2 separate regions of the Homo sapiens genome follow, and region 1 is linked to region 2. Evidence: fine-mapped expression QTL. A gene starts in region 2. The other region holds a variant in brackets. All regions are shown on one strand. Distances are between the middles of the regions.

Region 1 (4,395 bases), 95 kb before region 2:
AAGCTTCTGGGCTCTCTCCAAAGAACCCCTAGCATCTAAAATGGCTTTGCTCCTATACCTCCTCTCAAAACAAAAAAAAAAAAAAAAAAAAAAAGAGAACAAAGAAGTCTGTTTCCTTATTCAACAGCTATTTGTCCAGCCTGAAAGAGCCCCTCTAGTCTAACCCTGTGCATGCTGCTGATCCTCTCCCAGAGTGCCTTCCAAGATTATTTCAGGAGCCTAGGAAGGCCCTAAGTGTGGCTTTGATCGCCATATTGGAAATGCTTCCCTCACTGGCTCCCTGGGCTCCAAGCCCAGTACTTGACAGTTGCCTGTAAACTGAGCAGGTCTTTATCTTAAAGACATCACAATGGACCCTAAACAAACACATTAACAACCACTCAGAGACCTAACGCTGGCCAATAAACAAACCCCCAGGAAAGCTTACTCAGAAAAGGTTCCTCCTTCCTGCAGCCCCTGAGGGCAGATCCCGGAGTCCCTCCTTCCTCAGCCTGCAGGCTGCTTTCCAAGGGCTCTCCAGCCCTCCCGGCAGGAATGTAATCATCTGCCCTGCGTGCCCTGCCTTCTCTCACCTTTACCCACAATAACCCAGCATGGTCACAATGCACTCAGTGCATACCTATTGCAAATAAAACAAGAAAGTAAATCTCCTTCAAAGGAACAGCTAATAGCTCCAGGCTACCAAAAACAATGTGTTCTATGGGAGCTAGCGATTACCCTATATACCAAGGGTTTAAATTTAAGGTCTTTAGATGAGCTTCGGAGGTTCCCTGAACCCCTACAATGATTTGCAAAATTTATATGTAGACTTATGAAGGGCATTTTTTCCCTAAGATACCGGGAAGGAGATTCCCTGTATCATCAGAGTTCAATATCAAAAATTTTTTTTAAATCTAGGTATCTATGGATAAAAGGATATGATGTCTAGATTTTGTTTCAAAACATTTCAGTTGGAGGACAAAGAGTGGGTGAAGTAGGTGCAGTTATGGATTAAACAAGATTGGCCATTAGTTGATACTTATTAAAGCTAGTGATGAGTGCTTGGAAATTTATTATATTATTCTGTCAAGAAAGAAGTGGAAGGAAGGAAGAAGAAAAGGAGGGAGTGAGGAAACCTTTTGCTACAGACTACGCTGAAAGAACCAGACAGACCATAGTATACATCTGCTATTCTCATAGTCCTAGCTTTATAGGAACAACTGCCCAGTGGATTGCCTGGTCAGTGTTTGAAAGCCTGGCAAATTTGTGGGTGCAGAGGCATGTTCTTCTCACTCTCACCCCCGCTCTCTATCCTCAGCATCACCCAGAGAGAGGGACCAGAATCCCTGAGGCCATCTTGGTTCATCTGCACCGTCTCTCCTACACCTCTTCACCCCTCCCCTCTCCACTTCACTCCAGGCTGCATTGGGGCGGGGAGGTGATCATCCAAGGCCCTGGCTCTCCATCGAGACCCCAGCCAGGTAGAGCCCCTATTGCCTGAGCAAGCTTGCGCAGGATGGGGCTGGAGCTGCACTATTTGGATCTTCTTGGAGTAGAAAATTCACAAATTCCAACCTCTGCTCCCAAAGCAAACCTCCCCAGCCCAGGTGGCTGCATCCTTCTCCTCCCCTCCCCCCAGTTCCCTGGGTCGCCAAGCCGGAGGCTTTGAAAACCAGCTTGTGTTTGGTTTGTGAAAGCACCAATGTTTGCAATGTTTGCCCAGCAGAGAAGGAGCATATTTTCTCCCTTCCAAATGCAAACTCAAAAGATGCTCCACCAGTTTTTCTTCAGACTTTCCACAGGAAACATAAATAAGAAAGAAAAATGACTTTAGGTGCTGAGACCTGAAATGGAATTTCAACCCTGAAGGAACTGCCTGTAACAAGCACTCTCTGTCCTTCAGTGAAGGCTTCGAGAGCCTAGGTGCATGTTTCTTTCCTCTGAGTAGCCTTCACAGATGAGGCAAGGGGAGGAGCTGAACCAGTTCTTAGACCTGACTCCCAGCTAGATCTTCAGCCCCACACAATGAATGGCCGGTGACTGGCACAGCAGCTGAGATTCCCTGGCTACAGTGTTCTTTTTTATCTTTCTTGATTGTGTTAGGGTAGAACAAATGAGGGTGCTGCAACCCGAGAGGCCCAGCCACACTGCAAGCCAGCACAATCAGAGTGTGAAGTGTGGACACGCCCCCCTGGAACACAAGGCCACAGTTTGCCACCTGCTCTGCCCTTGTCT[C/T]CATCTCGGAAGAAGGACATCCCTGATCTGTGGCCTCTGTCCTCACGGATCTTATAATTATCAGACAAACACAACCACAGAGAGGCTGGAAGGCAGTGCTTCAGCATCACACATATATGCATCGGTGACCAGAGTTCTGATTAATCTTAATGCACAGATAATTGGAGCATTTCTTGCTCACAGCTTATAGCCACCAAATGACTGCTTCCAGGTTAGGAGTTTGCAGAATATGTACACACACGGAGCCCTACAAAAGGCTCCAGACCCAAGAAATACAGGGTTGAAGTCAGTGTGGACAGTTCTAATGCAGCTAATACATTCTAACTGATTTGTTGTGAGCTAAGGGTTCAGTGTTTACACTTCAAGGTCACTGTTTCTGTCTCCTGACATCTGAGAACCTTTCTTCTTCTTCTTTTTTTTTTGAGACAGAGTCTTGCCGTGTCATCCAGGCTGGAGTGCAGTGGCATGATCTCGGCTCACTGTAACCTCTGCTTCCCAGGTTCAAGCGATTCTCTTGCCTCAGCCTCCTGAGTAGCTGGGATTATAGGCACCCCCCGCCAGACCTGGCAAATTTTGTATTTTTAGTTTCGCCGTGTTGGCCAGGCTGGTCTCGAACTCCTGGTCTCAAGTGATCCACCCACCTTAGCCTCCCAAAGTGCTGGGATTACAGGCGTGAGCCACCGCGCCTCACCCAAGAACTTTTCTTCTTAAGGTGTTTTCCTTTCCCATAGCATTCTATCTTTGGATAGGCCCAACGAGGCCATTGAGCATCTACCCTTTTTACAAAACATATTATCAATCTTATAGCCCATATGTTTAGTGATAAGTCAACTAAACAAAGCAAGGGACCCCACTGGAAGGTGCTTGTGGGAAGTGTACCCTTCCATCTAGGACTTCACTTTGATGTACCAAATTCTGAGAAAGACCCCAGAAGCCATTTCCTTCTTGCTGAGGTTTATTTATCTTGTTTATCTGAAGCCAGGGCCAATAACCCAAATGGCTTTCAAATGGCTACAAAAGTGTCTCAGCATTCGATTAATCAGTCCCATCACAGACAAGTCAACTAACCTGCAGACCCACGTGCTGTACTCATAGTCGTTGCTGGTTCTGGCAGGGGTGATCTGGGAGGAGGTATTTCCCGGAGGTGTTTCCGAAGGGAGAGGCACTAGCTGAAGTTGGCTCTGAGATTCGAAGCGGAGGAGGAAAGGGAAGGTGGAGTGCTGATGCTGACAAGGTGAGGAAGAGGAGGAGTAGAGGTTACCAGCGCTCAGAGCATGGGTTTTGGAGGCACACAGATCTGTGCCCAAAGGGCTATCAATGCTCTTCCACTTCATTGCTGAGCAACCTGATGTGTTCATACGTTCCCTGATGTGTAAAAGTGGCACAATACTTGCGTCTACCTTATAAAGTGCCTGCAAGCACTAAGACAAAATGTAGACAGAGCTTAATGCAGTGCCGGACTCAGTCAACAAATAGCAAATGGAAGTCGTTCTCATTAAACAGCGAAAAGGAAGTAAAAAGGAAGACAGAGGAAGACAAAGGGGAGATGGGGAGGGGATGCCGTGGGAGGCTGTGGGTGGGGTGCAGAGGCTGACACTGCAGACAGCAGCCCCTCACCCAGCTCCATCTCTGGGCGCCTGGGACAACACAGCTCTCGGTCCAGACAGGCTGCTCAGATGTTTATTAAGAAACCACCCATAAAAGTTATTGGAAACTTTACATTTGCAGCATGGTCTCTGCACACTGCCGAGCTGCCACGGCTCTCAACAAGGCCTCATTCACGGCCCTAGGCAGCTCACTTGCCTGCCCCCAGCCCCTGGGTCTCAAGCCCACCAGGGTGCCTCCCAGCCCCCGCCCCCAGCCCAAGCCTGGCCTCCTTCCCTCCCTTGGGTCTGAGTGATTTTCTGATTTGCCTTTTCCAAATGTGAAATCTTTGAATGAGGTCACTTCAACTGGAGAGCAAGGGATAGGCCACAAGACAATGTTTCCTAAGTGCAAAGGTCCCTGGGTGATTTTAGGTAGAACTTGGATGAAAGTTTTGCATTCTAATAGTGTTATATATAGTATCTATATTTTAATGTACATGTGTATGTATTTTGGCAGGGACCAAACCTGTAAAACAGATTTATTTTAATAAGTATTGGAGGAAAAGGTAGAATATCAATCCCATGTTACAGAGTT
Region 2 (4,395 bases):
ATTAGCTAAGTTCCATAGTTTACATTAGGGTTTACTCTTTGGATTGTATAGTTCTATGAATTTGACAAATGCATAATGTCATGACAAATGTATGTCATGTATCTGTTATAGCATCATACCGAATCATTTTAGTGCCCCTAAAATCCCCTGTGCTCCACCTATTAATCTCTCCTTCTCTATCCCAAGCCCCAGTAACAACTGATATTTTTATTGTCTCCGTAGTTTTACCTTTTCCAGACTGTCATACAGTTGGAATCATACAGTATGCAGCCTTTTCACACTGGCCCGTTTCACTATGTCTTTTCCTGGCTTGATAATTTTTTATTGATGGAAAATATTCCATTGTATAGCTGTATCACAGTTTGTTTATTCACCTTTTGAGGGACATCTTGGTTGCCTCCAGCTTTTGGCAATTATGAATAAAGCTTTTATAAACATTCATGTGCAGGTTTTTTGTGCAGACATAATTTTCAGCTCATTCAGCTAAATACTTAGGAGTGCTATTGCTGGATCATGTGGTAAGACAATATTTAGCTTTGTAAAAAACTGTCAAACTGTCTTCTACAGTGACTGTACCATTGTGCATTCCCACCAGCAATTAATGAGAGTTCCAGTGGTTCCACATTCTCATTAGCATTTGGATTTTTGAATTTTAATCATTTAATCATTCTAATAGGTGTGTAGTGGTGTCTCACTGTTTTAATTTGCAGTTCGCTAATGACATATGATGTTGACATCTTTTCATGTTTATTTGCCACCTGTATATCTTCTTTGGTCAACTCTTTTGCCCATTTTTAAATTGAGGTATTTTCTTTTTATTGTCACTGAAAAGAGTCAAACTGTAAAACATTTGAAGAGATTTATCCTGAGCCAAATACGAGTGACCAATAGCTCCCCCATGACACAGCCCTCAGGAGATCCTGAGAACATGTGTTCAAGATGGTCGGGCCACAAGTTGGTTTTATAAATTTTAGGGAGATATAAGGTATCAATGAATATATGTAAGATGTACATTCATTTAGTCCAGAAAGGCGGGATAACTGGAAGCAGGGAGGGGGGAGCGGGGCTTCCAGGTCATAGGTAGATTCAAAGATTTTCTGATTGGAAATTGGTGAAAAGAGTTAAGTTATTGTCCAAAGACTTAATAGAAAAGCAATCTGTGAGGACCAAGGTTTTATCAGGTGGACAAAGCTTCCAGGTAGCAGGTTTCAGAGAATAGATTGTAAATGTTTCTTATCAGACTTAAAGAGTCTGTTCTATCAGTAATTCCAAAAGGGAGGAGCATATAATGAAGTGTGTCTGGCTTCCCCTTTCCATCAACGTCTGAACTAGTTTTTCAGATTAACTTTGGAATACCCTTGACTGAGAGGAGGGGTCTATTCAGATGGTTGAGGGGCTTATAATTTTATTTTTGGTTTACATTCTTAATGAGTTGCAAATGAGTTCTTTATTTATTCTGGATGCCAGCCCCTTATCAGATACATGATTTGCAAATATTTTCTCCCATTCTGTGGGTTGTCTTTCCACTTTCTTGATGGTATAATTTGGAGAACAAATGCTTTTATTTTGTGTAGTCAAATGGGGTTTTATCTCCTAGTCACTTGCATTTGTATTGTTTGTGCCAGAATGTGCAGAGGTAGAGATACAAGTAAGCAAGAGGAAGAGGGCAGTGGTAAAAGCAAGAGGAGACCCGACTGTGGAGACAATGAAGCAAAGGGAAGGTGAGACTTGAGTAATGGATGCACCTCTTGCTCTGGGAGCATCTGACCCTTTTTCCAGAGTGGATCCTGTTTGCTGTGAAGCCCAATTTATATGTTTGCTTCACTGCCAGAATCCCGCCCCCATCCCTCCCCACTGCAGGCTTGAGAAGTGGCCTCACAGACACGCCCTTCCCTCTTGACACTTTCATTCCAAATAGCTAGCTTTTCTGTACTTTCTCTGAGAAAGGTAATGTAAATGTAAAAGAAGTTTTTGAGGCTATTCTATAGAAGATGTCATAATTCAATGTTCCTCAAAGGCAGGGACTATATTTATTTTTTTTAAACCTCTCGGCACCTAATGCAAAATCTAGCACACAGACTCCCAAGAAATGTTTGCTTAAAGACGGATAGAGGGCCACAGGGGCAGGTTTTATTAGCAGTTGCTGAAGATGTTGGAATGCAAGGTGTCTCAGGCAGTCTGGACTAGGAAAAAGTTCTGTGTTGAAAACAAGAGAAGCAACGAAATAATTTATTATTCCCATTAAATAAAGATGCTGATGGCTCTCGAGATAGATATGAGGACCCCAGGACTCTGGGGAGTGAAGGAACTAAGCCGCTGCCATATCTGAGCTGAGTACTTAGGGGGAGGAGGAAGAGGAGGAGAAAGGCAAGCAGGAGGAGGCGGAGCCTTCTTGTCAGCATCTGTTAGTGGAGGTTGGGAAGCCTCTCCTCCTTCCCCCTCCCTCTTTGCCTCCACCTGGCTCCTCCCCATGTTCGTCCATCACCCCTCCCCCCTTTCCCAAGGACAATCTGCAAGAAAGCAGCGGCGGAGGAGAGCTAAGACTAAAAGGCAAGAGGGGCCATTGAGTGAAGAGCAAGGGGGAGAGCTGGGAGTGAGGTGGGAAGGTATGGGCCGGGAGCAGGCGGTAGGGAGAACTGAAAGGAGCAGAAAGGAAAAGAAGAGATACGGCATCCTAAGCTGGAGCCGAGAGGGGGATGGGCAGGGCAGTCGTGAAGGATCCTAGCCCCTTGGCCAGTCCCCTCCGCTTGCAGGCTCAGCTGCATTCCCCAGGAATCTGGGATGGGTGGGTGGGGCTCGGACGGGTTGCCCTTGGCTGCCTGACCCTACCCTGGCACTCACCCAATTCAAATCAGTGCTCCTATGATGCTGCTTTTCTGTTCCTCCCTGCCGCGTGCTTATATACGCACGTGATTTTAGAGATATGTTTTAATATCTGTCTGTTTTTGTCTACGTGCGTGTCATTGTGGGTCTGTAAGGGATGCTTATACATGAGTCTGCATGAATTTCTGTGTCCTGTGCCTCTATAACTGTCTTAGAGATTTCAGGAGAAGAATATGAGCGGTTTTTACAGGTCAGCACTCTTAAACTCCTCTTGTTATGGCGAATTTTCTCCCTCACTGACGCTTCCAGGGGTGGAAGAGCTCTGTGTGGGATTCTGCCCCCGTCATGAGCTCCAAGAGTGAATGAGAAGAAAAAACGGGAGGAAAGGGATCAGCATACCCAGATGTCTTGTTTTTTCCTTTCCACCTTTTTGCCTTCCTATTTGCCCTAGTCACTTAATCTTTCTTTTTGGAAAACAGCAGAAATTTGGACATGAACATTCCAGTTAAATAAGAGCGTCTCTAGTCACGCGTGTCTCTATGTTCCTTTCACTGTTTGTCACTATATGATTTCTCAAGTCCAAGTTAAAAGTGTGTTTTAAAGTAGAATATGGAGGTATATCTGTATCTAAGCCGATTTTACATTTTTCATATATTTGTATTTCATGTAGTTCATCAGTTCATTAACGTTTTCAACAAGTATTTATTGGGGTCCTGTAATGTGCATAGACTTTGCAAGTCTTTAGTGAGCTGTGGGAGAGTTTTTAAAAATGATCATGATCCCTGCCCTGGAGGAGTTCTCAGTCTAGTTAGGAAAAATGACTTTAGCAGCCATCCAGTCCAGTGGTTGGCAAACTTCGTCTGTAAAAGACCAGATAGTAAATATTTTAAACTGCAGGCTTATGAGTCTCTGTCACAATATCCATTCTGCTGTTGTAGCACAAAAACATCCATGATAATACGTGAATGAACGAAGGTAGTGCACATACTGAAATTTGAACTTAACATTTTTCACATGTCATGAAGTACTTTTTGCAACCACTAAAAAATATAAAAACCTTTCACAGCTTACTGCCATACAAAAATGTGAGAAGGGCTGGATTTGGCCTACAGGCTGTTGTATGCTGACCCCTGATCTAGTCCAACCCTCTTATCAGTGCGTACGAAACTATTAAAATGCCACATAAAGCAGGCCGAGCATGGTGGTTTATGCCTGTTATCCCAGCACTTTGGGAGGCAAGGTGGGCGGATCACCTGAAGTCAGGAGTTCAAGACCAGCTTGACCGACATGGTGAAAACCCGTCTCAATTAAAAATACAAAAATTAGCCGGGTGTGGTGGTGCATGTCTGTAATCCCAGCTACTCGGGAGGCTGAGGCAGGAGAATCACTTGAACCTGGGAGGCAGTGATCCAGTTTAGACAACATGTGGTTAGAGGAAGTCCAAAAGAAGGTTTCCTTGACCTGTGGTAATCAGTGAAGGTTTAATAAGGGTACAACTATCACTGGTCTTAAATGATGGAATGGGATGTGAATCTGTGGAAAGGGCCAGGGTAGCCACCTGGACAAGGGATG

The links. PIP is the estimated chance that this variant, and not a neighbour inherited with it, causes the effect. A credible set is the group of variants that fine-mapping cannot tell apart.
Region 1: its variant is the best candidate, but not a certain one, in a credible set for the expression of PFKM in whole blood (INTERVAL, PIP 0.51).

Annotation. Positions count from the first base shown.
Region 1 is chr12:48,021,538-48,025,932 of GRCh38, forward strand. All of the region lies in intron 2 of LOC105369750 (a long non-coding RNA gene), which reads left to right. It overlaps LOC124902927 (a long non-coding RNA gene), which reads right to left and starts at 638. Exons shown (of 2, transcript XR_007063293.1): 1 at 428-638. RefSeq lists an enhancer at 1-972. The variant C/T (reference allele first, on the strand shown) is at 2,215.
Region 2 is chr12:48,116,857-48,121,251 of GRCh38, forward strand. It overlaps PFKM (phosphofructokinase, muscle), which reads left to right and starts at 2,508. Exons shown (of 23, transcript NM_000289.6): 1 at 2,508-2,550. RefSeq lists an enhancer at 2,104-2,173.